Regions from separate parts of the Homo sapiens genome. Here region 2 is linked to region 1. The links come from fine-mapping of genetic effects on gene expression. A gene starts in region 1. The other region holds a variant in brackets. All regions are shown on one strand. Distances are between the middles of the regions.

Region 1 (15,979 bases):
TCCTTAGCCTTCCGAAGTATTGGGATTACAGGCGTGAGCCACACCGCCCAGTCAATGATTGACTTTCTTTATATAACATAATGCTTTAAGATTTATCAATGTGGTGGCCTTTTTGGAGGCCGAGGCAGGCGGATCACCCGAGGTCAGGAGTTGGAGGCCGGCCTGCCCAACGTGGCGAAACCCCCTCTCTACTAAAAATACAAAAAATTAGCCGGGCGTGGTGGCGGGCACCTGTAATCCCAGCTACTCGGGAGGCTGAGGCAGGAGAATCGCTTGAACCCGGGAGGCAGAGGTTGCAGTGAGCCGAGATTGCGCCACTACACTCCAGCCTGGGTGATAAGAGCGAAATTCTGTCTTAAAAAAAAAAATTATCAATGTGGCATATATTAGTAGTTAATTCCTTTTATTGCTGAGCAGTATTCCATTATGTGGATTTACTACAACTTATCCATTCACCAGCTGATAGATACTTGGATGTTTCTAGTTTTTGGCAGTTATGCATAAAGCTACTATAAATATTCATGTAGTGTTATGGCAAATATATGTATAACTTCATTTTTAAAAACTGACAGTGTTTTTCAAGGTGGACCAGTTTGTATTCCCACCAGCAATATATAAGAATTTCAGTTATTTCACATCATCATCGGCGCTCGGCACTGTTAATTTCTCACCTTTTTTTTTTTTAACTTCAGCTATTCTCTTAGGTGTGTAAAGTATCTCATTGTGGCTTTAATTTGCATCTGCCTAATGAATAGTGATGTTACATATCTTATTATGCTTATTGGCCATCAGTACAGCTTCTTTTGTAAAATATCTGTCCAAATCATTTGTCCATTTAAAAAAGGGTATTGTCTGGTCTTATTATTGAGTTGCAAGAGTATGTTATTGTTCTGGTTATAAGTCCTGCATCAGGGAAGTGTTTTCCAAGTATCTTTTTCTAAACTGTGACTTTTTTTTTTTTTTTTTTTTTGGTAGAGAGGGGATTTCGCTGTGTTACCCAGGCTGATCTTGAACTCCTGGACTCAAGCAATCTGCCGGCCTCAGCCTTCCAAAGTGCTGGGATTACAGGCTTGAGCTACCATGCCTGGCCTGACTTGTCTTTTCTTAACAGTATCTTTTGAAGCGCAGATTTTTTGTTAAACTTTGATGAAATTCAACTTATTTTTTCCTTTATGGTTTATGCTTTTGTGTCCCATTTAAAATCTTTTTGCTTAACCTAAAGTCACAAAGAGTTCCTTCTACGTTTTCTTCTAGAGGTTTTGTTGTTCTAGTCCTTGCATTTAAGTCTTTGATTAATTTTGAATTAATGTTTGTACATTGTGTGATATAAGGGTCTAAGTTCACTTATTAGCACATGGATATTCAGGTTTTTTAGCATCATTTTGCAAAGATTATCGTTTTCCTGTAGAATTACCTTGGCACCTCTGTCAAAAATCAATTAATCATAATCATGTAAGTTTATCTCTAGACTCTATGTAGCTTTGTTGTAAGTCTTGAAATCAGGTAGTGTTCTTCCAACTTTGTTCTTCAAAATTAGTTTGGATATTTTGCATCTTTTGACTGTCTGTATACATTTTATACATTTTATATTTGGCTTGCCAATTTCTAAAAAAAATCATTGAGATTTTGATAGTCATGGCATTAAATGTATCAGTCAATTTGAAAGATGTGGAATTGATATCTGAAAATTGTTTAAATTTTCTGTTCTGGAAACAATGCATTGCTTTCATTGCATCTTGGTAAATTTATCTCTAAATGTTTCATATTTTTTATACTATTTCAAATGGTATTTTGTATTTCAATTTCTAACTATTTATTGTTAACAAATACAATCTATTAATAAATAGAATTACAATTTATTATATTTGTGTCCTGCAGTTTTGGTAAGCTTACTCATTAGTTGTAGTAGCTTTGTAGAAGTTTCCTCAGTATTTTCTCGTAGACAATAATGTTACATGCAAATAAAGATAGTCTCACTTTTTCCTTTTAATCTGTATTTTTTTCTTTCTCTTGTGTTATTGCACTGGCTAGAATCTCTAGGATAATGCTGAATAGAAGTTGTGAGAGTGGACATCCTTGCTCTGGACCTGATGTTAGGGCCAAAACATTTGAGTTTTTCATCACTAAATATATTAGCTGTTGAATTCTTAAATATGTCTTTTATACTTTGCAGAAATTCTAACAAATGTATCTGAATTTTGTCAATTGCTTTTTTCTACACCTACTGGAATAATCATATGGCTTTTCCTGTTTAGTCTGATAATAAAGTAATTACACTGATTACATTGATTTCAAAATTAAATTCTAAGCTACACTTTTCTTTTCTTCTTTAATTCTTTGAAAGTTACTCTTCCCATTTTTTAGATTAAGGTACAATTCACATACAGTAATGTCATCAGTTTTAATGTACATTCTCCTTAGTGTAGCAAATTTTGTCAAATATAGACAGTCGTGTTATCACCATTACAATCAAGATATGGAATAATAATATCACTCTACCCCCAAATTTCTGCATGTTTCTTCTTCTTTTCCTCCTCCTTCTTCTTCTTCTCCTTCTCCTTCTTCTTCTTCTTTTTTTTTTTTTTTTAATAGACAGGGTCATGCTCTGTTACCCAGGCTGGAGTGCAGTTCTTCCATCATAGCTTACTGCAGGCTGGAACTCCTGGGCTCAAGCCATTACAGGCATGACACCAGGCCTAGCCTCCCAGGAGGAAAGAAGAAAGAAGTTGTTTCTTCTTCTTCTTTCTTCCTTCTTTCTTTCTCCTCCTCTTCCTCCTCCTCCTCTCCTTCTCCTTCTTCTTCCTCTTCTTCTTTTTCTATTTTGTTCTTACTGAATCACTATGTTTCTTTTATACTTAATTTCTCCCCTATCTTCTACCCCAGTAGCAACTAAGGATATTTTCTGTCCCTATAGCTTTGCCCTTGCAAGAATTTCATAGGAATAATATAGTATGTAGCATTTTGTATCTGGCTTTGTAAATTCAGCATAATGCAGATGAGTTTCATCCCTGTTGTTACGTTTACCAATAGTTTGTTCCTTTTTATTCCATAGGAATATTATAGTGGTCTGTAAGCTTCAAGAGAAGTTAAAACCATCTAGGTAGGACTCAATTCGCAAGTTGAAAAGGTGCTAAAACAATAGAGAAGCTACAGGGTGAGATTGTAATCAAGTGATGATGATACATTTCCAAGAATTATTTCAGATAGTTAGATTTAGCCATAAACCCATTTTGAACTTGTGTCTGCAACAAGAGGGAATAAATAGAATGGCCGTTCTGACACCAGATTCTGTAAGAAGAGGAAGAAGGAAGTCTTCCCTCAAAGTGATACAGAAATCTAGTGCGGAAAGGTACTAATTACTTGTTCTTGTATTCCCAGGAGGCAAATATTGGGGATTATCAGGGGAAAGAGCATTTCAGGCAAATGAAATTCCAACTTTAACAGCCCTGAGGTGTGATTCTTATGCTAAGATTAGTTTATAGGTAAAGAAAATAATTGATGAGATTAGCTATTGGAGTTCTTCCTGATCAAAATCAACTCTATAGTACCGTGTCACTGAGAGTCAGGAGGCTCTGGGAGCTCCTGAGCATAGCAGTAACTGATGAGAAACATACTGAGCATTTTTTTCTGTATGTTTGCTGCCCCCTGTGAAAATTAGTGAAGCTTTTATTCGAGAAAGCATGTGAACTGAGATCCTGGGGTTTGGTGGTGAAATGGCAGGGTTGGTCAACTGCTTTCACATCTGGTGTCCAAGGCTCAGTTAGTACACTTCATATGGGCAGAGACCATCTCATAAGAATCTGCTCATTTCTCTTCTCTGGCTTCTCGTATTTTCCCCGACTAGGTTACATTATTGGAAAGGAATTTACCAGACCATATATTCTTAGTTTCTCATGGCAATGAATTGAATAACTGAATTAAATATTAGTTATGTTGCTGCAGATATTTCTCATGGGAAACGCTGGAGAGGATCTTTTGAAAAAAAAAACCGTATTTTTGTCAAGATTACAATTATGGAGAACTTTAACTGTAATAAGTGATGATCTTTTATAAATAAATTCACCAACACTCCTTTCCATAAATTTCACAATTTATAATTTCCATATACTTCTAATAATTTTATAAAAAAGAAAAGTCTCTCCAGATGCCTTCCCGTTCTTCCCATTGGTGTTCATTTCTGTTTTAGGCACGAGGAAGCTGAATACCATGATAGGTACTTATTAGCAAAGCATGACAGCATACCTTTGTGAAAACTGTCAGAATCAAAATGGAGTCACTATTGTTAAAACACACAAACACACAAAACAAACTAAAAACGCTAATTAATAGAGCTGGAAAAGGCCATGCTTGATAACAAAAACTATCACAAAAGACTGCAAAAACCACAATCTTGCACAGGCCATCACAATCTTACACAAAAAATACTTCTACAAGGACATCTGCCCCACAACTGCCTGTCCAACCTCGGACTAGCTTCCTCTTTGCTATCCATTTTTGTAGCAGACAATAATTACCTCAACACAGTTATATAATCCTTCTCATTTTTTCCCTTACAAATCTTTGTCGCTGAGCTCGGTGGCTCACGCCTGTAATCCCAGCACTTTATATTCTGGATCATGAGGTCAGGTGGGCGGATCATGAGGTCAGGAGTTCGAGACCAGCCTGGCCAATATGGTGAAACCCCGTCTCTACTAAAAATACAACAATTAGCCGGGCGTGGTGGCGGGCATCTGTAATTCCAGCTACTCCGGGAGGCTGAGGCAGGAGAATTGCTTGAACCCGGAAGGCGGAGGTTGCAGTGAGCCGAGATTGCGCCATTGCACTCCAGCCTGGGCGACAGAGCCAGACTCCAACTCAAAAACAAACAAACAAACACCTTTGTCTTCCTTTACCTCCCTGAATATACATAGTTTCCTATGGCACTCGTATTTTCATTGCAATGCTCTATTCCCAAATAAACATCATTTTCTTTCAGAGAGCTTCTCTTTGTTATTTAGGTTGACACCTGTAAATAGAATGCTATATTTCTTTTTTAAATTGTAGGGGGAGAGAGAAGTGTTGTGTTTCATTTACTTGTCCCATTACAATTGTGCAATATCATATGAGCCGCTCAATTCCTAAACATATGTACACACACAACGCACTTCTGTTTTGTGTCTCGAACACAAATTACAAATTATACAAATTGTGTAATTTTCCTTGCCCTTCAGAAAGGAGAATCTCAATGTTTCCGAAATGAACTGGGCAGTAACTTCGCTTCAAGGCGGTAGGTCCCCCCTCTTCAACCCAGTTGTCTAAAATAACCTTGTCTTTATTATTTACTTCCTATAGAGAGAGGAGGTGCTAAGCGGACAGGACAGCTGGACAACACGCGCAATAAGGGCAATGGTCCTATCTATTCTAAGGGAGGAGGACATGGAATATTGGTGTGGTTTTGTTTATTTTTTATTTTTTTGGACCTATGTGAAACATTTTTACAGTAAAACCCACAAATTTTAAATGTTCAAGAGAATTGTTCATATACTTGTATAGTCAGTATCCCTACTCAGATAAGAACATTTTAGAACATTTTGGAACATTTCTAATATCCTAGAAAATTTCCTCACGTTTCCCTATATTTTCAAAATGAACAAGAATACAGGATAGTCAAAAGCAATAGGTAAATCCTAAAGAATCCAAAACGAGGGTAATGACATCCTTCGATAGCTCAGCTGGTAGAGCGGAGGACTGTAGGGGTTTGAATGTGGTCATCCTTAGGTCGCTGGTTCGAATCCGGCTCGGAGGAGTTCCATTTTTAAAAGTGTCTCTTCTGGGCCTGAAATAAGGAAACTTGGAGAACGCATGTGCAGCTTGCTTATTCAGGAATTTGTAAGACGCTCAGAGAAGGAAAATAATCCACCCTGAAAATTGCTAACAAGGGTTGCTTCACAGACAGTTGAGTGGGACTCGATTTTCACCAAGTTGAGAAGGGATCATGAGGAATGTGGGGAACGGGAAGAACACGCTGCCCCAAGGCTTCATTTTTTTTTTTTTGTCGGTTTCACGGTCCTTTAGCACCCCCTGTTATATTGATACTTGGTGTGAATAAACATTTTATTAATGATAATTTCAAATATATACAAAGTAGAGAAAATAGCTAATAGCTACCATTAGCCACCACACTGGCACAACTTACCGACACTCTTGCATCCATCATGCCCCTCCCCTAGCTCCAGATCTTTTAAAGCCACCCCAACACGTGTTCTCATTTCATTAACTGTACTGTGTTTTGAAGATGTCAGTGTTTATAATTAAATAGCAGTAGACGGAGTTTATCGCTCTCATCGTACCCCGCTCCTCTTCAAAAAAGGAGCAGTGGACACCTACCTGACAGAAAGTTCTCTTCAATAAAGTTAATGAAACAGGCGTGTTTGAATTCGAGAAGTCTATTATTAGACTTTTAGACACTCCATGAAAGAGTGCAGGGCCCTGTTACTTTAGAAATATACTTGGGGACTGGCAAAAACTGTCATCTCTGATTTTAATAGTGGACACATTTACTCCCTGCTTCCATTCTCTGGGCTACTCTGCGCTCTTGGAGCGAGATGGGAAATTTTGTCAGGCCGCAGCAAGGACGGATTTATGTTGATAGTCATCAAACTCGCCCCGGGCTGCTTCCAGAAAGCTAACCGGATTACTTGTACGCGGTTCCCAGCACTGTCCTTTGCAGTCAGCTTGTCGCTGGCGCCGATGGGAAGAACTGAAACGCCTCAAGGGTGGGGACGGCGCCCCCTGCTGGTCGCGCCCTCGGGCGACGATAAGAGACTGAGGACCCGAGCCCGCGCGGGGAAAACTGCCCTGAGCTTGGCTTAGGGATGGTCCGCAGGCCGCCTGGTGGGAGCAGGACCGCCGTGGCCCGGTCCGTTCTGCGGTTGCGTAGGTCATAGAAGGAAAAGTGGTTTGTGATCTGATAGGGAATCTGAGGACAGACCCAGGGAGAGCAGAAATAAGCGCGCCGCCGGGGGGTCGCCAGAATTGGAGGCTTGTGCGCCTCTGACAAGTATTTGCAACATAAGTATGCATATGGATAATGTATCAATACACACGTGTAATAGATGCCAAACAAATTCTTCAAATAATTGTCACACATTTAAATTTTCAGACATTCACAAAATCAAATGTAAAATATTAAACTGAAAGTTCACAACTTAAATTTTCAAAAATTAAATCTAATTAAATTTCCAAAGTTGAACTGTTTTCAAAATTAAATTTTAAAATATTCAAAATTCCGAGGTAAATTTCCAGAAATAGTTAAAACCTCAAAACTCAAAATTTTTAAATGAAATTTATAAACTTTAAAAGGTGAGTCATTCCTCAGCTGGAATCGCACCCGGGGCCCTTGAATAAAATGCTATTTTGATCGCTAGAACACATAGAAACTTCTCTAAAATTGTTCTGCAAAATTCCCTAAAAAGCCGGCATCAACCCGCCTTTTAGCGTCTCGACAAGGCGTTCTATAGGGTAGGTTATATTTGGGGATCTGCCTTTTCTGGTTCTGCCTGTCCTGAGTTGGAGATCTGACCGGGAATCTGAGCCTAACCCAAGTTTCCCATCCCGCTTCCACGCTCTGAATCAGGCTTCCGACCTGACACACCACTTCCTCCCTCTCCCCTCGGCCTTCCCCTGGACCCGACTGTATTGCCCAATCATTTCCTTTCATTTGTCATCACCACCTTGGACCCGCCCCCTCGTCTCAGGCCGTCGCACGCGTTTTGCGTCAGTTGGCAAGGCACTTTACGGCCGTCGTGCCGCTCGTGTCAGTCAACATGGAGGCAGAGGAATCGGAGAAGGCCGCAACGGAGCAAGAGCCGCTGGAAGGGACAGAACAGACACTAGATGCGGAGGAGGAGCAGGAGGAATCCGAAGAAGCGGCCTGTGGCAGCAAGAAACGGGTAGTGCCAGGTATTGTGTACCTGGGCCATATCCCGCCGCGCTTCCGGCCCCTGCACGTCCGCAACCTTCTCAGCGCCTATGGCGAGGTCGGACGCGTCTTCTTTCAGGCTGAGGGTAAGTATGCAGGCCCTGACGGTGACAGGAGGAGGTTGTCGCTCGCTGGCGGGGTGCAAGCATGCATGTCCTGTTGCTTCGCTGCGCGAGGCTGAGGCACGAGTTGCTGGATTTTGGGGGTGGGGAGTGCGGTGCTTGGCTCCTGGCTGGTGAATCAGTCTGTGAGGATGCTGGGGTGGGCGGGCGGAGGGGATATGGGGAGAGTGGGTAGCGCAGTGTGTCTGGTGGTTCTTTAGTTCTCGGATTGTTACTATTTGTGTTCTTATCCCGGCTCTGTTCACCTCTCTTTCCGGACCTGTTTACTGGTTTGTTACATGAATACAACCTGAGTAAAAGTCTCGTCAGCTTTTCTACAAAACTGAACATAACTCTTTAGCATTGCTGCCTAGGTCAAGAAACTATTTGATCAACCGCCCCTCTTCTTTCCACCCTCAATTTTACATTGAGGCTGAGGACTTGTGCCGGTTTTAAGCAGCGTTCAGGGCTGGCCAGATTAAGGAGTGGACAATTAAGGAAAGAATTGAGTTAGCTAGAGGAAAGGGTGCGATTTACAGTTCCCTTCCTCCTGGGCAAAAACTCTTCAGGTGGGACTCCCACTGGCAGATGTGAAGAACGTTGCGGGCAGTGGGAGGTGCTTTTGAGTGAGTGCTGCATAGGCGTCCTGGACGGGTCTTTGTCTTTGGCGCGCAGACCGGTTCGTGAGACGCAAGAAGAAGGCAGCAGCAGCTGCCGGAGGAAAAAAGCGGTCCTACACCAAGGACTACACCGAGGGATGGGTGGAGTTCCGTGACAAGCGCATAGCCAAGCGCGTGGCGGCCAGTCTACACAACACGCCTATGGGTGCCCGCAGGCGCAGCCCCTTCCGTTATGATCTTTGGAACCTCAAGGTGAGAAGATAGATCTTTCTGCCACACCTCTCACCCTCCCTTCTCCCCAACTCTGGCCCAAGTATCCCCATGGCCTCTCATTGGCCTTGTCCCCTTGTCTCATCTTTCTCCCTAATCTGCACTATCCTGATCTTTTCTTCTTTTCTGCCCACAGTACTTGCACCGTTTCACCTGGTCCCACCTCAGCGAGCACCTCGCCTTTGAGCGCCAGGTGCGCAGGCAGCGCTTGAGAGCGGAGGTTGCTCAAGCCAAGCGTGAGACCGACTTCTATCTTCAAAGTGTGGAACGGGGACAACGCTTTCTTGCGGCCGATGGGGACCCTGCTCGCCCAGATGGCTCCTGGACATTTGCCCAGCGTCCTACTGAGCAGGAACTGAGGGCCCGTAAAGCAGCACGGCCAGGGGGACGTGAACGGGCTCGCCTGGCAACTGCCCAGGACAAGGCCCGCTCCAACAAAGGGCTCCTGGCCAGGATCTTTGGAGCCCCGCCACCCTCAGAGAGCATGGAGGGACCTTCCCTTGTCAGGGACTCCTGAGGGCCTGGGTGGCCCCTTCCATTTCCTGGCCCTGCTCTGCTTCCTGTCTACCTCATACTAGAATGATCGTGACTACCCGGGCAGACATTTTACTGTGTTTCTCAGACCAAGTGTCTACTGATGGCCCAAACATGGAGTTTTGTGGGCTTCCACTGTCCCCACTCCGAACTCCTGTATGTGCCTGGCTGAGTCACCTAATTCATACTGTCATACTAGCATAATTATGACTATTGCATATGCTTGTTTTGTTTGACTCTTGGCTGCCTACGTCTGTAGGGTCCCCTGAAAATCCCACTTCCTGCCCCCAGAAAGGGCCTTTATTTCCAACTAGGAGGATAATGCCTAGTCCAGGCAATCTTTCTCTGTTTAGCAGTCACAGGTGAGGGTGGTATTAGCATCTTTTTTATGTAGAAAAAATTGAGTTAATGGGGTGGACTGGGTTGGGAAGAAATACATTTCCTAATGTATTTATAGAAAATAAAAATATTTTTATGTGCCTTTTTATTTTTGTTGGTGGGGAGGTCATTGGACAAGTTCCAACTTTCATCTTGTGTTCCCTTCACCTTCATATCCTGATCTTAGAGCCCCCCTCCCCCTGCCACCCACCTTACTGTTTAACCTGGATTTTTTTTTCTATTTAATTTTTGTCTAATATCTTAGCCCAGTTTATCAATCAGTTATCTTAAGTCAGCATTTTCTAAGCCATTGTTTGAGGAAACAGTGACAATAGGTAATAACACATCTTAGTATTAAGAGTTTTACAGGCCACTAGTATAAGATAGGCATCGTGGTAGATGCATATAAAGGGTGGAATGGGAGCCATGGCAGGTCATAGAGTCCTCTCAATGGGAACCTGATTGATGATCACAGTCTTCAGTGGTGAGTCAGTCCTCACCAAGTTTTCCAGATCATTCCTACAAAGTAAACTGGGAGAATAATAAGTCTGAAAGAGTGTGGAGTGCTCCCACAATTACAAAGAATGCTTCCTGGGTGGAGTGTTGAGTTGGAACCATTGTAAAGGTGGGCAAAGCCTAGTAGAGAACCAGTGCACCTCAGGTGCACTTACATATGGTGGGGCTGAGGCAAAGCAGCCCTGTAGGCTTCAAAGAATCAGTGTAAGCCACTAAAAGGAACTGAAAACCTAGGTGTCACAATAAACAGTCTACACAGTCTCACGTAGACCAAAATTCTGATCATTTTCCAGGCTGTTGCATGAAGTGATAGAGTATGATTATAATTTCTGTTTGCTTGTGCTGTTTGTTTTTGTTTTTCATCTGTCAATGTGATGATCTGTGTTTTATAGGGTAGAGTGGATTTGTCTACTTTGGCTGTAAAATACCCTAATCACATTATGATCTTGACAGGTGCACTTTACTGGGGAGAATAAAAAGGACCATACGGTAAAGCTGGTATAACATTTCTCACAACCCACATACCTCTTATACTTGGCACACAAACTACGTTTCCATTTAGAAACTTTCGTCTTGTTTCTGTTTTTAATTCTTGTGGGTTTGTTTCATGTGAATTGTTTCCTCAGATCATTGATGTCTTAAAGTGAAACAGAAAAATCCAGAATCAGAATTTGACAGGCTGGCATATTCATTTATTCAGAATTCCAAGTGCCCATTGCTACTTCTGCTAGATAAAGAGATACCAAGGTGAAGAAGAAACTTTCCCTCTAGTTGCTAACAGCTTAGAAAGTACAGTAGACATACTGGGGTTTTATTTAAGACTTTCTTGAATGAAGAAATAAATTGCATTCCCACGGTGGACAGCGTTAGATAACAGTATGTTCAAGGGCTGGTATTTCAGGGTCCATCTCCAAAACAGTTCTGTACAAAGAGCTCACACCTGCGGCCAGGCAAGCTAAGTAAGTCACAGGTGGAGTGAGGAATGAGAATAAATGGGTGGAAGAAAATATCCTAGGAACTTTCATCTTGACTTTAAGCCCATTGAGTGTAGGAAAATAATTTTTTACATCCACAATTTTGTTTCTATTTAAACAGCACTTGTTTTTTTATATGAAGTAACTCATTTAATCCACAACTATATAATATTGTTATCCCCCCATTAAAACTGAGCTCAGAGAGATGACTCAATTTGCCTCTTAATATTTTATCCTTTGTTCCTCACCTTTTCCCCAGCTTTTCCCAGTGTGCATATGGTGAATGCTTATTACAGGAAATTCATGAGAAATGCACATGTTATAGACTAGAGAATGAAGTGTACCTGCCAATATGAGTGGATTTATTTTATCTAGCACCAAGAGTAGCAAACTGAGTAATAATTCTCAGTCATGATCCTGTGGTTGTAGTGTATACTCTGATTCAACTTAGTTTCACTCCTGACTGAGAAGCTGGGACTCTGCATTTGATGGCAATGGAGTGGGCTGATTTCTTTCCAAATAAGTTGAGGTGGGACTCCTGGTAGAGTAAGAGGGCTTTAATAGGGTATGTCTGGGTGCCTAAAAGCTTTCTCTCTCTTTTTTTTTTTCAGAGACAGGGTCTCTCTATGTTGCTCAGGCTGGCCTTGAGCTCCTGGGCTCAAGCGATCCTCCCGCCTCAGCCTCCCAAAGTACTGGGATTACAGGCATGAGCCACCACGCCCTGCCCTAAAAATGTTCAAAAGTCGTATTTACAGCTACTCTCAAATTCCTTTTTTTTTGTGATTCCTTATAAAACCTTTCTCCCTGCATTTATCTTGTTATATTACAGTAGAATTATGAGGGGAAAATCCTTTGGTGGAAGTCTAGGGACATGCTCAGTTCCCAGGAGGCTTAATGTGAATTTTAGTGAATTGCTTAAGATCCAGTATTAGATCTGCTGGTCCCTGCCCACCCCCCTTTTATTTTTTGAGACAGGGTCTCACTTTGTCACCCAGGCTGGAGTGTAGTGGCATGATCCTGTCTCACTGTAGCCTCCATCTTCTGGGCTCAAGCAATCCTCCCACCTCAGTTTCCTGAGTAGCTGGGACCGCAGGCATGCACCATCACGCCCAGCTAATTTTTAAAATATTTTTTGTAGAGATGAGGTCTCACTGTGTTGCCCAGGCTGCTCTCGAACTCCCGTTCTCAAGCGATCCACCCACCTTGGCCTCCCAAAGTGCTGAGATTACAGCCACGGTGCTCGGCTCCCATCTTGAAATCAATACCTGACAGAATATTAAAGAAAATGAAAATTGGCCGGGTGTGGTGGCTGACGCCTGTAATCCCAACACTTTGGGAGGCCAAGCCTAGTGGATCACTTGAGGTCAGGAGTTCGAGACCAGCCTGGGCAACACGGTGAAACCCTGTCTCTACTAAAAATACAAAAATTAGCCGGGTGTAATGGCGGGCCCCTGTAATGCCAGCTACGCAAGAGGCTGAGGCAGGAGAATCGCTGCTTGAACCCGGGAGGCGGAGGTTGCAGTGAGCCGAGATTGAAAATGAAAAATTTTCTATCTTCTGTTACCAGGGCCCTTGAAACCACACTTTTTTCGCACCCCTTGTTAACTGGAGACACGAAGGCGGGCGGAGGGGAGAGGCCATCGGAAACCTGGCAATGTCTTTTGCAGCTGCATGGTGTGTGCCCAGCCACCTTCAGCAGTTATTGTGGCCAGTCTGTGGCTGACCTGGGCTATCAGGGTTAGCGCACTCCAGTGAGCTCCCCCAGCACATTGCCTGCAAATGAATTCAGAGAACTTCTTTTTGTTTTTCACCTTTGCCTCCAATTCCATTGTGTCAATTATCATTGATTATTTAATCAGGACTTTATGGTTGGACGTGCAGCTTCTTCTAATCTTTTTTTCTTTTAAGTGTTTAAAAGAATAATGCTGACATGAGTCAATTTTAGTTGTACAAATACAGCTATTGTGTAAAAATTGTCAGAAGCGGAATTGCAGAGTCTAAGAGAGACCATCTTTGGTATTTATTTTGTTAGCAAGAAAAAAATTGAGAGTCTGATAATTTAGGAAAATACCAGTCACAGGAAAATACCAGTCACAGGAATACAGGTGGAAACCTAGCTAGAGGTCTCCACCCCTTTTATTCGTGCTCTATTGTGACGTCCAAAGCCTGACCCAAGGAACTGATTCAGGTAGAGGCGACGCCAGCTCAGTGTAGGGGGCAAGCTCTGCAAGACCTTGGCCGAGTGACTTCTGCTGCTTTTTGCTGTGGGGACTCTACTGGATGGACCAGCACATGAGAGAGATGGAGTTTGGAAACAAAACAAGTGGTTCAGAAACATGGGATTGCTTTCATATCTACTGGCATTTAGAAGGAGCTTGGTAAATTTAATCAAGAAACAAGGAAATGAAAATACCCAAGGAACACCAGGGGAAGAATAATGGTTGGATTTTCATTTAATTTGCCAGACACAATCCCTGAAGTAAGAAAATACCGTTTCTCATGAAATTCCGGCACCCGAGGCTCAAACGGCCAACCCTACGGTTAACAGCCGAACGCGCTAACCAATTGTGCCACAGAAATGAATGTGGTGGAATATCTCCATTCCAACAAGGTTATTTTACTTTTTTTCAGTCTAAACAATACATTAGAAAGGAGGCTACTTCTCCGTGTATTGGAAAAATGTTTTCCCTTTTTTTGACTCTCATTGTTGCTATGTTAATGTGTTTTAAAAACGGAGGTTTATAGGCTTGCCGCCGTGGCTCACACTGTAATCCCAGCACTGTGGGAGGCCGAGGCGGGCGGATCACGAAGTCAGGAGTTCCAGATCAGCCTGGCCAACATGGTGAAACCCATCTCTACTAAAAATACAAAAATTAACCGGGCGTGATGGCGGGCGCCTGTAATCCCAGCTAGTTGGGAGGCTGAGGCAGGAGAATTGCTTGAACCCAGGAAGCAGAGGTTGCAGTAGGCCGAGATCGCGCCACTGCACTCCAGCGTGGGTGGCAGAGCAAGACTCCGTTTCAAACAACAACAACAACAACAACAACAACAAAACACAGAGGTTTGTAATAATACAGATATTATTCTTAGGAACATAAGAGTGTTAATTGGGTGGAGAGCAGGACGCGGGACTGGTGCGTTTTGCAAAATAAGTATGAGTAGAATCAAAGGAAAGAATTTATTTTCGGTTCAATAAGGAAGTTTTCACTGATAGTTCAGTTGAGAGAGAAACCACTGGAAGGCTGTTGCATAGAAGGAAATATATTAAATGAGAAAGACACCAGCAAGAGCAGAGGGGAAAACCATTTAATGGAAAATCTGATACAAATATTAAGGGAAAGTAAGGGGCCAAACACCAGGACATGAAACCAGAAACTCCTATACATTAGTGCTTGTCCACCAAACTGCGAGCCTGAAATTGCGATCATACTTTATATTTGTGTTTTAAAGAGTAAGTTGGTGACAGATTTTATTTCTTTTCTGCCTGTCTTCCTGCTTCCTCTTTTTCTTTCTGCCTTCCTCTCATTCTCCAGTATGTATACCTTCTAATCATTTTCTTCTGGGTTTTATTCTGAATATTAGGATTTTCTAAATTTGTTCCTGTTTTTCTCATTTTCTTAAGCATATGTGGGTTGACCTTTGAAGTACGATGATGGGTAGGGGGTGGGTGGATGTTGTGATATTCACTACCCTATTTGTCTTTCTAGTCCTTTCAGTGACATTTAAGCCCAAGAGTCAGGTTACATTAGGATGATGTCCTCAACTTGAACTGTTGACTCTTGGATGTCCTCTATTCGTTTAGTCTCCCAACTAACAGTTATTGAGTGTCTGCTAAAAGCTAGGCACAGTTCTAGGCATTCGGATACATCAACAGTACACAGCAGAGACTAGGGTGGATTTTTCAAGCTGGGGAGAAACACATAATAAACACAAATAAGTAATTGTATCTATTTGAAGGTAATAAGTTCTATGGAGCAAAGAAAAAGTCAAGCAGGGTAAGGGGACCAGGGAGTGGGAGGTATGTGGTTTGCAATATTAAACAGGCAAGTTAGGGTGGCCTCTTTGTTTATGATATTTTGGAATGGCTTATTGGAGTTTTGATATATCCATCTTTGTCTTTAAAAGATGTCTCTCTGAGAACCTAGGCTGAAACAGACAAAAGAAACTGGATAGATCTTTCAACAGCAATTATGGGGAGTTTTGAGAGGAGGTGCTCCCTGGGATTGGATGAAGATACCAGTTAGGAAGGATGTAAATGTCTATTATTTAGGAATAGACAAACCTCATAATCTATTTTACGACCAAGAATTCTGTATTTGCCATTTTCAGAGATTTGGGTTGGTGGCTCAATGTAGAATGCCCTTTTCTACGGATCACTATATTCCATGTTGGACTTCTGGTTGGCTTGTTTAGTTTTTTCTTTGGAATTCAGTGCTACCACACAGACGTGTGCAAACACACCCACACACACACCATTAAACAAACAAAGGCCAGTGGGTCTCTTGGCTAAGGATTCTATGGTGCATATGCAAGAAATGCTACTGATAAGGAATGTTATATCAAGTTTCTCAAGAGTGGATAAAGCTGACCAATCTAGCTGCTATACTTGGAGAGGATAATATGGAT
Region 2 (15,979 bases), 48 kb after region 1:
TTTCATATTCAAGGCATTTAAAAGTGTGAGTGTGAGTTGCCTGGTGCCTAATTAGGTTGGCACTCCGAGTAAAACTTCTCATACATTCCAGGCATTTATACGGCTTCTCACCTGTGTGGACTCTCTGGTGCACGATAAGGTCTGATTTCTGGCCAAAGCATTTTTCACAGGCACCACACTTATAGGGCTTCTCCCCAGTATGAACTCTTTTATGTACAATGAAGGCTGAACGGTGTCGGTAACTTTTCTCACACTTATTACATTTGTAGGGCCTTTCCCCAGTGTGAGTTCTCTGGTGGCTAATAAGATCTGATTTCCCACTAAAAGCTTTTTCACACTCGAGACACTTAAATGGTTTCTCACCTGTGTGAGTTCTTCGATGCCTTATGAGGTTTGTACTTCTACTGAAGCATTTGTCACACTCACTACATAGATATGGTTTCTCGCCAGTATGGCTTCGCTGGTGGACAAGCAGATCAGAACTCTGACCAAAATTCTTGCCACAAATGTCACATGTATAGAATTTTTTACCTGCATGTGTTCTCTGATGTCCTGAAAGCGCTAAGTGATGCCAAAAGCTCTTCTCACATTTGCTACATTTATAAGGTTTCTCGTAATTGTGGATCCTCTGGTGTGAAGTAAGATCTGAGCTTTGGACAAAGGTTTTCTCACACATATCACATTTATAAGGTTTCTCCCCAGTATGGGTTCTCTCACACATAATAAGAGCTAAGTTTTCACAGAAGTTTTGCTTGCATTCAAGGCACTGGTATATATGACCATCTATCTGAATAATCTCATGCATATGAATAAAAATCTTTTTACCCTTCCGAGGGCATACATTATATATTTTCCTTTTTTGAGTTCTCTGATTACATTTCTCTTCTGAAGTGTACATTTTCTATGGCTCTCTCCTAGGGAGTTTTCCGCTGGTCTTCTTGACCCATCGTTGCCCTCACAGTCATTTTCTTGATAAGAACTTGGAAGATACATCTGTTTCAGGCCTTTCAATCATGAGCCTCTACAAGTTTCCAGCATCATATATGTTAATTCCTTACTTGGTATTTCCAACCCTGTGAGACAAAGTAGAAATATTATTTATATTCCTATGACTAAGAAAAGAATTCTCAAAATTAAAATCACTGCAGAAAAGACAAACTCTGTATCAGAGTCCCTAAGTCTTCTAGGTTTTATATGGCTTGAAATCAGTTATTTACTTTTACTCTTTGCTAATATAAAACTGATCAGCAATACATATGGGAAACTGCAAGTAAGAACTCTTTTCTCTATGAATCTGGGTAATTTTAAACAAGAGCTCTTCATCTTTCCTTGCTTCAGTTGAGAAATCAAGACAAGACTAATAATTATTATGCCTGCTCATGAAGAAAGCAAATCAAAAGGGACAGTGAATGAGTATCTCTGGAGTCCTTTCTGCAGAAAGCTTGGAAGAAAGTAGTTAATGATCATTAGAATTCCAAGTGACCAGAGAGAAAAGTAAGGTTTCTATGACTCTAATTCGTAGTGGTGATATCAGGCAAGTTTCTTAACCACTGTATGCCTCGTTTCCTCATCTGTAAAGTGGATTAATAATAGAAACTACCTTACACGGTTCTGTGGAATATTAAATCGCTATGAATCTCCTGGTAAGCCCTCTGTTTTGGCTCTTACTATCACTGTTATTATGACAAAGGGGCTTAAGATTCTGCTTTGATATGATTATATAAGCACATAACTTGCTCAAAAAGAAAAATCCTGACTGATTATAGATACAAGTCTAGGCTTGGAACATAGATTTTATAACAGGCTTTTCTTTACATGGTGAAAAGTTGTAAAAAAAAGTTTTTTCCTCCTCATTCTGTGGTTTAGAGGTATGTACACATACAGAAACACCTAAAGGATCAAGTATCTTAAAAAAAAGTTAGGTTGATACAAGAGAGTTCAGAGGGAGTAATAAGTCAATGCATTTATCAATTACCAAAAATAGACTAAAGAACAGAAATAAAAGGAAGAAAAAAAGCCATTTTCCATATCCTTCACACTTAACTCTCTTCAGTGATCTTTTCATGTTTGACCCTCCCTCATACATTCAGACCCCTCGTCTGTCACCTAAAGAGTATAACCTGATAATTTTGCTTCCTATTTTACCAAGAAAATGGAAGCAAGCAAGCAAAACAACAACACATACACAAAAACCAAAATCCTTTCCACATGCCCCCACCACATCAACCAACCTCTTGTAAGTGTGGTCACGTACTGCATCTTTCCTTCAGCTACCAGGGATGACAAACTTCCTTGCTCAATCTAAGGATAGCCTTTCCATCTGTATACCCCCTTTGTTCACAAGGACATCACTCTAGCAATTCCACCCTCCCTCTCCTGCATTATCAATTTATTCCTTCGTATTGGACCATTCCAATATTATTTCTCTTCTCAAAAACAAAAGCACAATCAACAAGAAAAACCTCTCAACTGCCTCACACTCAGGCTGTTGTCCCATTTCTCTGTTCCTCTCCGCAGTAAAACGCTTTGAAATAAATAAACCTGCTCATTGTCTCCAATTCTGTCTTCCAAGGTTTCTGGAACATACTCCAATTAAACAATCAACCCTCACTACTCCACCAAAACTGCTTCTGTTAGAAACCTACAAGCTCTTAAGAAATCTGACTCGTAGTTACTACTCTGATCCATTTCTCTGCTCTTCCTCTACTTACTCATTGCACTCCAGTCACCCTGAGTCTTTGCTGTTGTTCAAACAAGCCAGACTCACTCCCATTTCAGGGTCTTTATCCTTGATATCTCTTCCTGGATGAAGGGCTCTTCCTCCAGGAATCTTCAAGGCTCTCTCTCTCACCTCATTCACATCTTTGCTCAACAGGCATATTCTCAGTGAAGTCATTTCCAACCACCCTATTCTAAACTGTACCACATCTCCGTCCCAGCTGACTCACAAAAACAACACTCCTCTCCTTTCCTATTTTGTTTTTCTCCATAGAATGTAAGCCCCTAAAAGACAGGGATTTTTGGCTCACTTCATTCACTATTGTTTCCCCAGCACTCAGAAAAGTGCCTGGCACAGAGTAGGCACTCAAACCTAGAAGAGGAGTTCTTACTTGGCATCCACAGACTCCCAGGTAATTTATGAAAACTTTGACTGCAAAATGTACAGTATATGTGCACTTTTCTGGGGAGAAGGTACACGGTTTCTTAAATTATCAAAAAGGTCCAGAATCCAAGAAACTAGATATTAGATTGGAGCCTATTTGTAAAGGAAATGATATTAAAGCTCACTGAATACAGCAAATTAGTAAGTGTAATGGACCAGAACACAAAGGAACATGTGCACTCAGAGAAAACAGGAAGTCAAAAGGATCCAAAACACATGGTACTAACATGGTTACCTCTGGGTAATGAGATGATACATAACATTCTGTTTCATCAATTTGTTAACAACAGTTTTCTAATTTCCATTCAGCAATTTGTATGCTTTCCTTGCGAAAGGCACAGAGGCTGCTACTTTTACTCAATTTTATTGTAGTAAGTAAAAGTTATTTATAAATATAAAAAGATATACCAAGATTTCAAATGTCAACTCAGAACTGTTCTAAAACTTAAAGGGATAGGAGAAAGAACTGAATGAGGTGGGAGTAGTGCAATTTCTTCAGAGTCAAAACACAGATCCACAAGAAATGTAGTATTGTGACCACCGCGGGACATAATGGGAGAAAAATGCACTGCAAGGCTAACAAGAATAGGGAAGTCAAAACTGAAGTAGACAAGCTAAACAAAACAGACATGTTTATGCTAAATACAGTGATTAAAATCCTACATTTCAAATATGTGGGGGAAAGAGAGATCAGACTGTTACTGTGTCTATGTAGAAAAAGGAAGACATAAGAAACTCCATTTTGATCTGTACTCAGAAAAATTCTTCTGCCTTGAGGTGCTGTTAATCTGTAACTCTAGCCCCAGCCCTGTGCTCGCAGAAACATGTGCAGTATTGACTCAAGGTTTAATGGATTTAGGGCTGTGCAGGATGTGCCTTGGTAAAAATGTGTTTGCAAGCAGTATGCTTGGTAAAAGTCATTGCTATTCTCCAGTCTCAAGTACCCAGGGACACAATGCACTGTGGAAGGCCGCAGGGACCTCTGCCCAAGAAAGCCTGGGTATTGTCCAAGATTTCCCCTCACTGAGACAGCCTGAGATATGGCCTCGTGGGAAGGGAAAGATCTTACCGTCCCCTAGCCCGACACCCGTAAAGGGTCTGTGCTGAGGAGGATTAGTGAAAGAAGAAGGCCTCTTTGCAGTTGAGATAAGAGGAAGGCATCTGTCTCCTGCTCATCCCTGGGAATGGAATGTCTCGGTGTAAAACCCGATTGTACATTCTATTTACTTGGATAGGAGAAAACCGCCTTATGGCTGGAGGTGAGACATGCTGGAGGCAATACTGCTCTTCACTGCACTGAGATGTTTGTGTAAAGTCAAACATAAATCTGGCCTATGTGCACATCCAGGCACAGCACCTTTCCTTAAACTTATTTATGACACAGAGTCCTTTGCTCACATGTTTTCCTGCTGACCCTCTCCCCACCATTACCTTATAGTCCTGCCACATCCCCCTCACCAAGATAGTGAGAGAGTGATCAATAAATACTGAGGGAACTCAGATACCAGTGCTGGTGCAGGTCCTCACTTGCTGAGCGCCGGTCCCCTGGGCCCACTTTTCTTCCTCTATATTTTGTCTCTGTCTTTGTCTCTCTTTGTCTTCTTTTCTCAGTCTCTCGTCTCCACCTTACCCACAGGACCTTGCAAGAAATACCCACAGGTGTGGAGGGGTAGGCCCCCTTCAGAAATATTTGAGCATATCTCCATGATCTATGAACTGTCCTAGAAATTACTTTTTTTTGGTCCAAATTACATCTTTCAGGTGACTTTCACGGTATCACAGAACTCCTTAGACTACAAGTCCACAGTATACTCTGTCACCGTCATAATCTCAATCCTCAAAGCCTAACGTATCACAAGCATTACTCCTATTTTCTTTTATTAAATTCAGTTTACAGAGCTAAATGGCAAGTATCTGTTTTTGCCTTATAGTCAAAGGAAGTGAGCAAAGGACTTATACTGGGGCTGGATTCCAGATCTACTCCACCTATCACCTGCCTCATCTCAGTTTATGGCAAGTTCATCCTTTATTTCCTCAGGCTAAAACCTTGAAGTCATCCTGCACTCTTCTTTCTCACACCTCACAATCAAGCCATCAGCAAATTTGTTGGCTCCATTTCAAAACACATCCAGAGTCTAACCACTTCTCACCAGCTTCTGTTGTTACATTCCAGTCCAAACCACTCTTATTTCTTACTTTCACAATAGCCCAAGAGGCCCACTTGAGCTGCCCTGCTAGCCTGTCACTGCCTCTCTGACACCCTTTTATATTATTCTTCTCTTTGCATGTTCTAATCCAGCCGCAATGGCTTCCTAGCTGTTCCTCATCCAAACATACTATCCTTAGGGCCTTTGCCCTTTCTTTCTTCTGCCTACAGCTTTCTTCCTCCAGATGTGTGTATGAATTTCTCTTAATTCCTTCAAAGACTATTTTTTCAGATGTCAATTCTGAGGAAGGCCTTTCCTAACCACTCTGTTTAAAGTTGTGAATAGTCTTCATGCCCCAGCATTCACTATTCCCCTTTTCTGCTTTACTTTTCTTCATGGCACTTAAAACCTTCTAACATACTATATAATTCACTTTATTCAGTTTATTGTCTATTGCTAAAATATGACAAGGATGTCTGTTTTATCTTTCCTTACCATATACAGTAATGCCAGGTACAAAGTTGGTGCTTAATAAGCATCTGCTGAGTACATGTATGAATTCTCATTGAAATTCTACTTCTCTCCTTGTCTGATAAAAGGACTGAATGTCACAAAGAATGGGAGGTACTCTGATGAGATGGAGTCTGGGAAAGAGAAGGGATACTTCAAAATACTGAAGTAACTGCAGCTTACCTAGAATCCAGATGGAAGAAAACATACATTCCTGATCCTGACAATTTGACTTCTCAAAGAAGATAGCATTCTGTAAAACACAAAGACAAGGATAAAAAGCCATAAATGAGAGAATTTAGCACTAGATCATTTACACTCAAAGGATTTAACAATGGGTAAACTACAGTTAAAAAGAACAGATGGGTTTTCTTATCTAATCCCTTAAATTCAATTCTGTAGAGTCTTAAATCATCCCATATGACTCTTTAGAGAAAAGGACAATACAGAATCTATAACCCATCTGCACAATCTATAGCTTCCTTTGCAACTATAACAACATTGAAGGAAAGGGCTCCTAACACTAAATCTTGGTGGTATCTTGAAAACACGAAGGCATTATCTTCCCTACAGGAACTCAGGCTGTCCTGATCCAAAGTGTAATAGGGACTACAAAGTATTTTTGGGATTATAACAAAATTACCACCTTACCACCACTGCAACCCACGTAATCATCACAATTTTGGTAATTCAAAATTTATAACACCCTAAGCTGATTTATATTTCAACCACAAACAACCCAGGAGGTGGTCAATTAGGGGCACAAAAAGAAGTTAGAGAGTCCACACTTAACCATTGATGTCTTTCTCTAGAAGTTTTAACCTGCCTTATCCTTAGGTTAATGGGACTTGCAGTTCCCTCAACAACCTTCCTGCTACTGAGGATCAGAAGCAAAAATGGAACTACTTGGACCCAGGCAACATATAGGGCCATACAGCTGAGGCTCTCTATGACACTTAGCTTATAGCTGCTAGTATTAAAATGACATGTTTTATGGCTCTAGTTCCAGGTAAGATGGAGTAAATACATGTCACAGATGTCATCCCATTGAATCCAACTATGAAGTCTGGACAGAATGTATGGCCCAGTTATTTGACAACTCCAAAAAGCACATAGCATGCAAGTCAGGAAAGAGCAGAATTTTAAATGCCATTCAACCAGCAGTGATTTTATTTCTTTTTTTTCCCCCTTTTGGTCCTCTTCAGTATGGGGCCTAAGCTCGGTGTAGCCCTAAATATAGAAGTGAGGGAAGTTGTAAAACGTAATTGTCAACTGAGACTTCTCAGAAAACCTGTAAGTTTTCACACCATTTATTTATTTATCTATTTATTTATTTATTTTTATTTTAAGTTCCAGGGTACCTGTGCGGGATGTGCAGTTTTGTTACATAGGTAAATGTGTGCCTATGTAAACATGTGCTATACCTATCAACCCATCACCTAGTTATTAAGCCCACCATGCATTAGCTATTTTTCCTGATGTTCTCCCTCCCCCCGCACCTTGCTACAGTCCCAGTGTGTGTTGTTCCCCTCCCTGTGTCTAACTGTTCACATTGTTCAGCTCCCACTTATAAGTGAGAACATGCGGTGTTTGCACACCAATTATTTAAAATTGGCCATGGAAGTCAGTGGACAGAAAACTGACTTAAATATGAAAAAAAAAAGGAAAATATCTCTAGAGGAAATATAAAGAATGTGGTAATAAAACACAGTCAGAGGGGATAACAGTGGCTACAGAAATCCAAATCTCTCAACACATCCTTTAAAAGCAGTAAGAATAAGAAGAACAAATGTACTATACAAAGCCCACACTGTCACCAAATCCCATATAGCTGTCTCTCACATTCTAGCCATAAGCTATCAAGGAGAGCAAGGACAATCTGAGAATGAGAGGTAAAGAGAAGAGAGCTAGCAGTGGGCAAGACTGACCTAAAATTCATTGCCAGAAAGAAAAACCCACTCTAAGTACAAAAAACTTTATCACAGTAAGTATGTATAGAAAAAAAAAAGCCATTTAGGGTTCAATACTATCTGCAGTTTCTGGTATACACTGGGAGTCTTGGACCATATCCCCCACAAATAAGGTGGGATTACTATATTGTATTTATGGCAGGTGAGAATTAAAGTACACTATTAAACTAAAAAACCATCTGAAGCTGAAATGGCCTTTTAGAAAAGAAAAATTTTAGAAACCCTTAAAAACCAAATAATTAAAGGTTAAATATAAAAATTTATTTTTTTAATGAACTAAAGGCATTAAAAAAGATCTAAGTATGGTCAGGTGCGGTGGCTCACGCCTGTAATCCCCGCACTTTGGGAGACCGAGGCAGGCGGATCATATGAGGTCGGGAGTTCGAGACCAGCCTGACCAACATGGAGAAACCCTGTCTCTACTAAAAATACAAAATTAGCCGGGTGTGGTGGCACATCCCTGTAATCCCAGCTACTTGGGAGGCTGAGGCAGGAGAATCACTTGAACCCAGGAGGTGGAGGTTGCGGTGAGCCAAGATCAGGCCATTGCACTCCAGCCTGGGCAACAACAGCGAAACTCCGCCTC[A/AAAAT]AAATAAATAAATAAATAAATAAATAAATAAATAAATAAATAAATCTAAGTACAAAAGTAGCTAATATAACAAAAATCAAACATTCAAAACAGAAAGTCATGAAAGAGCTATGAAAACCTATCGTAGAAAAAAAAGTAACAAAATACAGTTATAACAATATGACATTGTTAAAACCAAACATCAACTATATCAATAAATATAAATGAGCTTAACACACCTATTAAAAGAAAGAGATTTTCATTTTGGCTCACAAGCAAGACCTAACTATATGCTAAATACAAGAGACACCTAAAGCAAAGTGATTCAGGCAGGCTAAAAATAAGGAGGTGGGAAAAGGAACACTAGGCAAACAGAAACAATAAAAGTAGGGCTTTTGATCCTGATATCAGGCAAAGTAGAGTTCAAGCCAAAAGAATTAAACATAATAATACTTTCTAAATTACACTAAAGTCATGGTTATCTATGTATCACATTACACAGCAGGCACATTTACAAAGGAAAAACAGAGAAACAGATACAAAGAAACAGAGATAAAAATATTAATAATAGGAAAGCTTAATATACCACTCTCAATAAAAGACATACAAACTGGACCAAGAAGTAATGATGCAGAAGGCCTAAATAACCTAATTAATAAGTAAATCTTATTTATATTAAACCGTATGTCCTGATAAGTACACATTCTTTTTAAGAACACATGAATCATCCACAAAAATCTGTCATATATTATGTAATAAAGGAAGCATCATTATCGCAAAGAAACATTACAAGAAACAATCTGCAACAAAACTAGAAATTTATTAAAATATCAAGCGACCAAAGGTCCTTTCAAATGGGGGGAAAATAAACTGTTAAAAAACTATTCAGTAAAAGGGGCAATGAAAAAGTTAACAAAATTTTTAAGTATTCATAATTGAAAATATTATATATTACAATCTATGGGATAAATTTAAACCAGTTCATGCCTATATTTCTTTAATCAATAAAAACAGAAGAATTTAAATGAACAAGTTAAATTCTTAGATCAAAAGCTAAGAAAAAAATAAATTTCAATTGAGCCCAGGAGTTCAAGACCAGCCTGGGCAATATTAATGAGACCCAATTTCTATTTTAAATAAATAAGTAGGTATGGTAGCTCATACCTACAATCCCAGTGCTTTGGGAGGCCGAGGCAGTAGGATTGTTTGAACCCAGGAGTTCAAGACCAGCCTGGACAACATAGCAAGATCCTGTCTCTATTTTGTTTTTTAATGGGAAAAAAAATCAAAATAATAACAAAAATAGATAAAAGGAGAAATCAATGAACTAGAGAACAAAAAGACAGTAAATCTAATGATAAATCAAAATCATACTTATTTTGTAAAACTTAAAGAAACAGATAAACCACTAGGTTACTTAATTGAAAAAAAGGAAGAAAGCACACATTTACAAAATAAGAAATGACAAGGAAGAATAACCACCGAAAAGAAAAACACACATACATGAAACCACTTTGCAAATCTCTATATAAATAAATATGATTAACTATAAAATAAGGGTTTCTTTATGAAACACAATTTATTAGAGTTGACTCCATTAAAGATATAAAGTCTTAAAACACCAATTTGCAGAGAATAAATAGAAAAAGTTATAAAGGAACCATTCCATAAAAAGCACTAGGCCCAGATTATTTCACGAAATAATTCTATAAATCTACACAGACCAAATAAATACAATGCTTCATACATATTTTCCAGAGCACCGAAAATGAAGCACAACTTCCTAATTCTTTTTGTGAAATAAGGATAGCACTGGTAACTAAACCTGATGAAGAGAGCATAAAAAAATTTTAATATCCAATATCGCTTTTTTTTTTTTTTTTAAAGAGTCGGGGTCTTGCTCTGATACCCAGGCTGGAGAGCAGTGGCACAATCATAGCCCACTGTAGCCTCAAGCTCCTAGGCTCAAGCAATTCTCCTGGCTCAGCCTCCTGAATAGCTGGGGTATAGGTACACACCACCATGCCTGGCTAACATTTTTTATGAATGTGAGAAATACTAACAAAAATCAATACCACATTAAGAAAATAATATACCATGACCAAGTGGAATTTTTGCAAAATTGGTTCAAAATTAGACTATCTTTCAATATGAGGAAATCCACTAAATATAATACCCCATATGAACAGACCTATGGAGAAAAATAATATATTATCTCCATAGATAGTGAAAGAACCTGCAACAGAAATCAACATCTATTCTGGATAAAAACACTCAAGAAAGTGGAAATTAATAGATATTTCCTTTTAATATGATAAAACATACATTCCTTCATCCAGTACCTTAAGTTAGAAAAACTACAATAATTTTTACTAAGATCAGGAACAAGGCAAGTATGGCCAATACTTCTCTTTTCAATCACTGACCTGGAAGTATTAATCAATGCAATTAGAAAAATCAATTAGAGGTGTGAAAGAAGTAAAACTATCTCTATTTGGAGGTGATTTAATAGTAGAATTAGAAAACCCTACAAAGGACCAATGCTAAAACTAACTCAAATGATAAAGGAATTCAGTATGGTAGCAGGATATAAAATTTGCCACACAGAAACCACCAGTTTTTTACATAAATATAAAGAATAACTAATTGGAACACACAATGATAGAGAACAACCTTTGTATAACAGCAGCAATATAAAACTACTTAGAAATAAATAAAACATAGCCATGCCAAATAAAGCATAGGAAAACTTCTCCCTCCTGAGACCCAAAAATAGACTCGAATAAATGGAAGGACAGCCTTTGTTCTTGCATAGAACAATTCAACATTATGAAGATGTTCCCTCCTAAGATTTATAAACAATGCAATCTCAATAAAAATAACAAGCTTCTTTATGAAACTAGACTAAGGGGTGGCAAACTATGGCCCACAGGCCAATTCTGGCCTGCCACCTGTTTTTTTCAAATAAAATTTTACTGAAATAGGGTCATACTTATTCATTAATGTATTGAAAGGCAGAATTGAGTAGTCACAATAGAGACCAGATAGCCACCAAAGCCTAAATACAATACTTTCTGGCCCTTTAAAGAAAAATCTCCAATGCCTAAGCTGTACAGTTGCTACTCAAGTTCACTTTGAAAAGACCAACAAGGACAGCCATGAAGCAATGAAAAGACAGACTATGAAGGGTAACTAAACCCATGAGACATTAAAATAAACTTTAAAGCTTCTAATATTAAAACAACAGAGTTCCAAAACACAATTAGATAAAGGGACAAATAGAAAAGGAAATCCAGAAATAAACACATATAGAAATTTAGTATACAATAAAGATGACATCTCAAATCACCAGGGCAAAAATGGACTTTTTAATAAATGATGGTAAAACATCAAGGTAGCCACATGAAAATAGGTACAATTTGGTCTACACTTCATACCACACACCAATATAAACTCCCAATTGGTTAGGGTTCTAAATGTATACATGGAAATGATAAGATACTACAAGAAAACTAAAGTAAATTCTACATTAATCTTAGGGTACCAAAAATTTTCTATCTGTAAGACTGATCATTTGACTAAAAATAAAAACTTTTTTTAAAGTTTTCTTTTATATATACATACATATGTGTGTGTGTGTGTGTGTGTGTGTGTGTGTGTGTGTGTATATATATATATATATATATATATATTTTTTTTTTTTTTTTTTTGAGACTGAGTTTCGCTCTTGTTGCCCAGACTGGAGTGCAATGGCGTGATCTTGGCTCACCACAACCTCTGCCTCCTGAGTTCAAGTGATTCTCCTGCCTCAGCCTCCTGAGTAGCTGGGATTGCAGGCATGCACCACCATGCCTGGCTAATTCTGTATTTTTAGTAGAGACGGGGTCTCTCCATGTTGGTCAGGTTGATCTCGAACTCCCGACCTCAGGTGATCTGCCCGCCTCAGCCTCCCAAAGTGCTGGGATTACAGGCGTGCGCCACTGTGCCAGCCAAAAACATTTTATATATATAAAAAATGAACAAAGTCAACGGTCAATGGGCAAACTAAGAGAAAATATTTGTAACAATATTTGAGATACAGGGACAATATACCTAATATATAAAGATCTCTTAAAAATTGAGGGAAAACGACAAACATCTGATAGAAAAATAAGCAAAAGACAATTCTCACACACACAAAATATAAAAATGTCCCTTAAATATATGAGAAGCTGTTCAATCTCATAATTAGAGAAATGCAAATTAAAATAAGTGATATTACTAGGAACAAAGAGAAACTTCTTCAAGTTGATAAAGCACATCTACAAGAAAACCACTGCTAACATCATACTTAATGGTGAAAACTTAGAAGCTTTCAGCTAACATCAGGAACAAGGTAAGAATGTTCTCTCTCACCACTGCTTTTCAACATAATACTGGAATAGAGAGATAATGCTACAAGACAAGAAAAGGAAATAAAAGGTATAGAGATTAGGAAGGAAGAAATAAAACTGTCTTTGTAAGTGACATGACCATATATGTAAAAATCTGAAAAAATCATTGACAAAAAACTCCTGGGACTAGGAAGTGATTACAGTTAAGGTTGTACAATACAGGGTTAACATACAAATCAATTATTTTCCTCTATACCAGCAATGAACAAGTAAAATTTGAAATTAAAAACACAATACCATTTACATTAACACTCTAAAAAATAAAACATCTTAAGTATAAATCTAACCAAATATGTTCATAATTTATGCAAAGAAAATTTGAAAACTCTAAGAAATAAAAAAGAGAACTAAATAAATGGAGGGATATTCCACATCCATGGATAAGAAGATTCAATATTGTCAAATAGTCAGTTCTTCCCAACTTGTACTACAGATTCAACACAATCCCAGCAAATTATCTTGTGAATATTGACATACTGATACAAAGTTTATATGAAGAGGTAAAAGACCTAGATTAGCGATCATAATGCTGAAGGGCAGGAACAAAGTTGGAGGACTGATGCTACCTAACTTCAACACTTACTATACTATTTGAAGTTACAAGACTAAAGCTATAGTAATCAAGAAAGTGTGGTAATGGTGAAAAAACAGACAAATAGATAAATGGAACAGAATAGAGTCCAAAAATATACCCATATAAATAGAGTCAGCTGATCCATGATAAAGGAACAAAGGCAATAAATACAAGGCAGAAAAAGACAGTCTTTTCAACAAATGGTGCTGAAGTAACTAGACATTCACATGCAAAAAAAAAAAAAAAGAATAAAATTCTCTCATTTGCATCAACATAAATGAACTTGGAGGACATTATGTTAAGTGAAATAAGACAGACACAGAATGATGAATACCACATAACCTCACTTACATATGGAGTATAAAACAGTCTAACTGATAGAAACAGATGGTAAAATGGTGGTTACCAGAGGCTGAGACATAGCAGGGTTGGGAAGAAATTGGTCAAAGGATACAAAATTTCAGTTAAACAGGAGGAATAAGTTCTAGAGTTGTACTGTAGGTAAGTTCTAGAGTTCTACATCATGCCTAATAAAAATACATTGCATATTTGAAAATTGCTGACAGTAGATTTTATGTTCTCACCACAAGAAATGGTATGTGAGGTAATATATGTTAAATAGCTTGATTTAGCCAGTCCACAATGTATACATATATTGAGACATCATGTTCTACATCATAAATACATACATACTTACTTCTCAATTAAAAAAAATTTACAAACCCCAAATGAATCAGATACCTAAGTATAAAACACAAAACTATAAAACTTCTAGAGGATAACATAGGAGAAAATCTAGATAAACTCGGGTATAGCAATGACTTTATATTTTTGGGATGGGTCTCGCTCTGTGTCCCAGGCTGGAGTGCAGTGGTGCGATCTCAACTTACTGCAATCTCCGCCTCCCAGGATCAAGTGGTCCTCCCACCTCAGCCTCCTGAGTAGCTGGGACCACAGGCATGTGTCACTACTCCAGGCTAATTTTTTCTATTTTTGGTAGAGACATGGGTTTTACCATGTTGCCCAGGCTGGTATTGAACTCCTGAGCTCAACTGATCTGCCTACCTTGGCCTCCCATAGTGCTAGGATTATAAGCGTGAGCCACCATGCCTGTGCTGGCAATGACTTTTTAGATACAACAACAAAGGTATGATCCATGGAGGAAAATTGATAAGCTGGACTTTAAAATTAAAAATGTCTGCTCTATGAAATAAACTGTCTAGAGAATGAGAAGACAAGCCACAGACTGGGAGAAAATATTTGCAGAAGACACATCTGATTAAAGACTGTTATTCCAAACATTTAAAAATCTCCAAAATATACAAAAATATACATATACCCTTAAAACTCAACAAGAAAACAAACCAGTTTAAAAAAACTGGCAAGTCAAGCCAGGCATGGTGGCTCATGCCTGCAATCCCAGCACTTTGGGAGGCTGAGGCGGGTGGATCACCTGAAGTGAGGAGTTCGAGATCAGCCTGGCCAACATAGTGAAACCCCTTCTCTACTAAAAATACAAAAAATTAGCTGAGCCTGGTAGCAGGAGCCTGTAATTCCAGCTACTAGGGAGGCTGAAGAAGGAGAATCACTTGAACCTGGGAGGCAGAGGTTGCAGTGAGCTGAGATCGCACCATTGCACTCCAGCCTGGGCAACAAGAGTGAAACTCCGTCTCAAAAAAAAAAAAAAAATTGTAGATACCCCATAGAATGTACAACATAAAGAGTGAACCCTAATGTAACCTATGGAGTTTGGGTGGCAATGATGTATCAACTTAAGTTCACTGATTGTAAGAAATGTATCACTCTGTTGAAGAGATTAACAGCGGGGGATGCTGTGTGTGCTATGTGTGTGGTATGTGCATGTGTCAGGGTAAAGAGAGTGGTAGGGGACATATGGGTACTCTCTGTATTTTTTGCTCAGTTTTGCTATGAACCTAACAGTTCTCTAAAAAATAAAGTCTATAAAAAATGAAATAATTTTTTAAATGTACATGAAATACCAGTTCTCACCAATTAAATCTGCATATATTAAAAGGTATGACAATGCATTTTGTTGTCGACACTGTAAGGAAACAGACACACTCATATGTTGCTGGAGGGAATGCAAACTGGTAAGTCTATAAAAAAAGAAATAATTTTTTAAAAGTACATGAAATACCAGTATCACCAATTAAATCAGTATACATTAAAAGGCATGACAATGCATTTTGCGGTCAACACTGTAAGGAAACAAACAAACTCATACGTTGCTGGAGGGAATGCATATGGGTACAATCTCGTCCGGAGGGGAATGTGGCAATATGTAACAAAACTAGATATACATTTACTTTTGACTCAGCAATCCCATTTCTAGAAATGGACTCTGAAGATTCACCTCCAATAACATGAAAATATAAAGCATAAAATTACTCATAGTAATGTTTGTAACGGGAAAATATTTAAAATAAATATCTGTATGTAAGAAAATGGTGAATAAACTATGGTACATACATCCACACATAATGGAGTACTATGCAACTGTAAAAGAGAATGAGGAAAATCTTTATCAACTGATGTGGAGTGATTTCCAGGATAAATTATAAATTTAAAAAAGCAAAGTGTAAAAAAGTATGTTGTA

What was found.
Region 2: its variant is fine-mapped to the expression of ABT1 in whole blood (INTERVAL, PIP above 0.99).

Annotation. Positions count from the first base shown.
Region 1 is chr6:26,589,178-26,605,156 of GRCh38, forward strand. It overlaps ABT1 (activator of basal transcription 1), which reads left to right and starts at 7,776. Exons shown (of 3, transcript NM_013375.4): 1 at 7,776-8,046; 2 at 8,737-8,933; 3 at 9,088-11,562. The coding sequence starts at 7,806. The coding sequence ends at 9,468. TRY-GTA6-1 (tRNA-Tyr (anticodon GTA) 6-1) reads left to right here and starts at 5,697; the gene lies at 5,697-5,785. It overlaps LOC105374989 (a long non-coding RNA gene), which reads left to right and starts at 13,556. Exons shown (of 2, transcript NR_187833.1): 1 at 13,556-14,414; 2 at 15,479-15,979. RefSeq lists a cis regulatory region at 3,635-3,739, a silencer at 4,404-4,698 and enhancers at 6,658-6,807, 6,908-7,067, 7,625-8,064.
Region 2 is chr6:26,637,656-26,653,634 of GRCh38, forward strand. It overlaps ZNF322 (zinc finger protein 322), which reads right to left. Exons shown (of 4, transcript NM_024639.5): 3 at 6,004-6,073; 4 at 1-1,073. The coding sequence starts at 898. Among named protein-coding and RNA genes, the nearest start is that of ZNF322, 14 kb to the right of the region's middle. The variant A/AAAAT (reference allele first, on the strand shown) is at 8,377.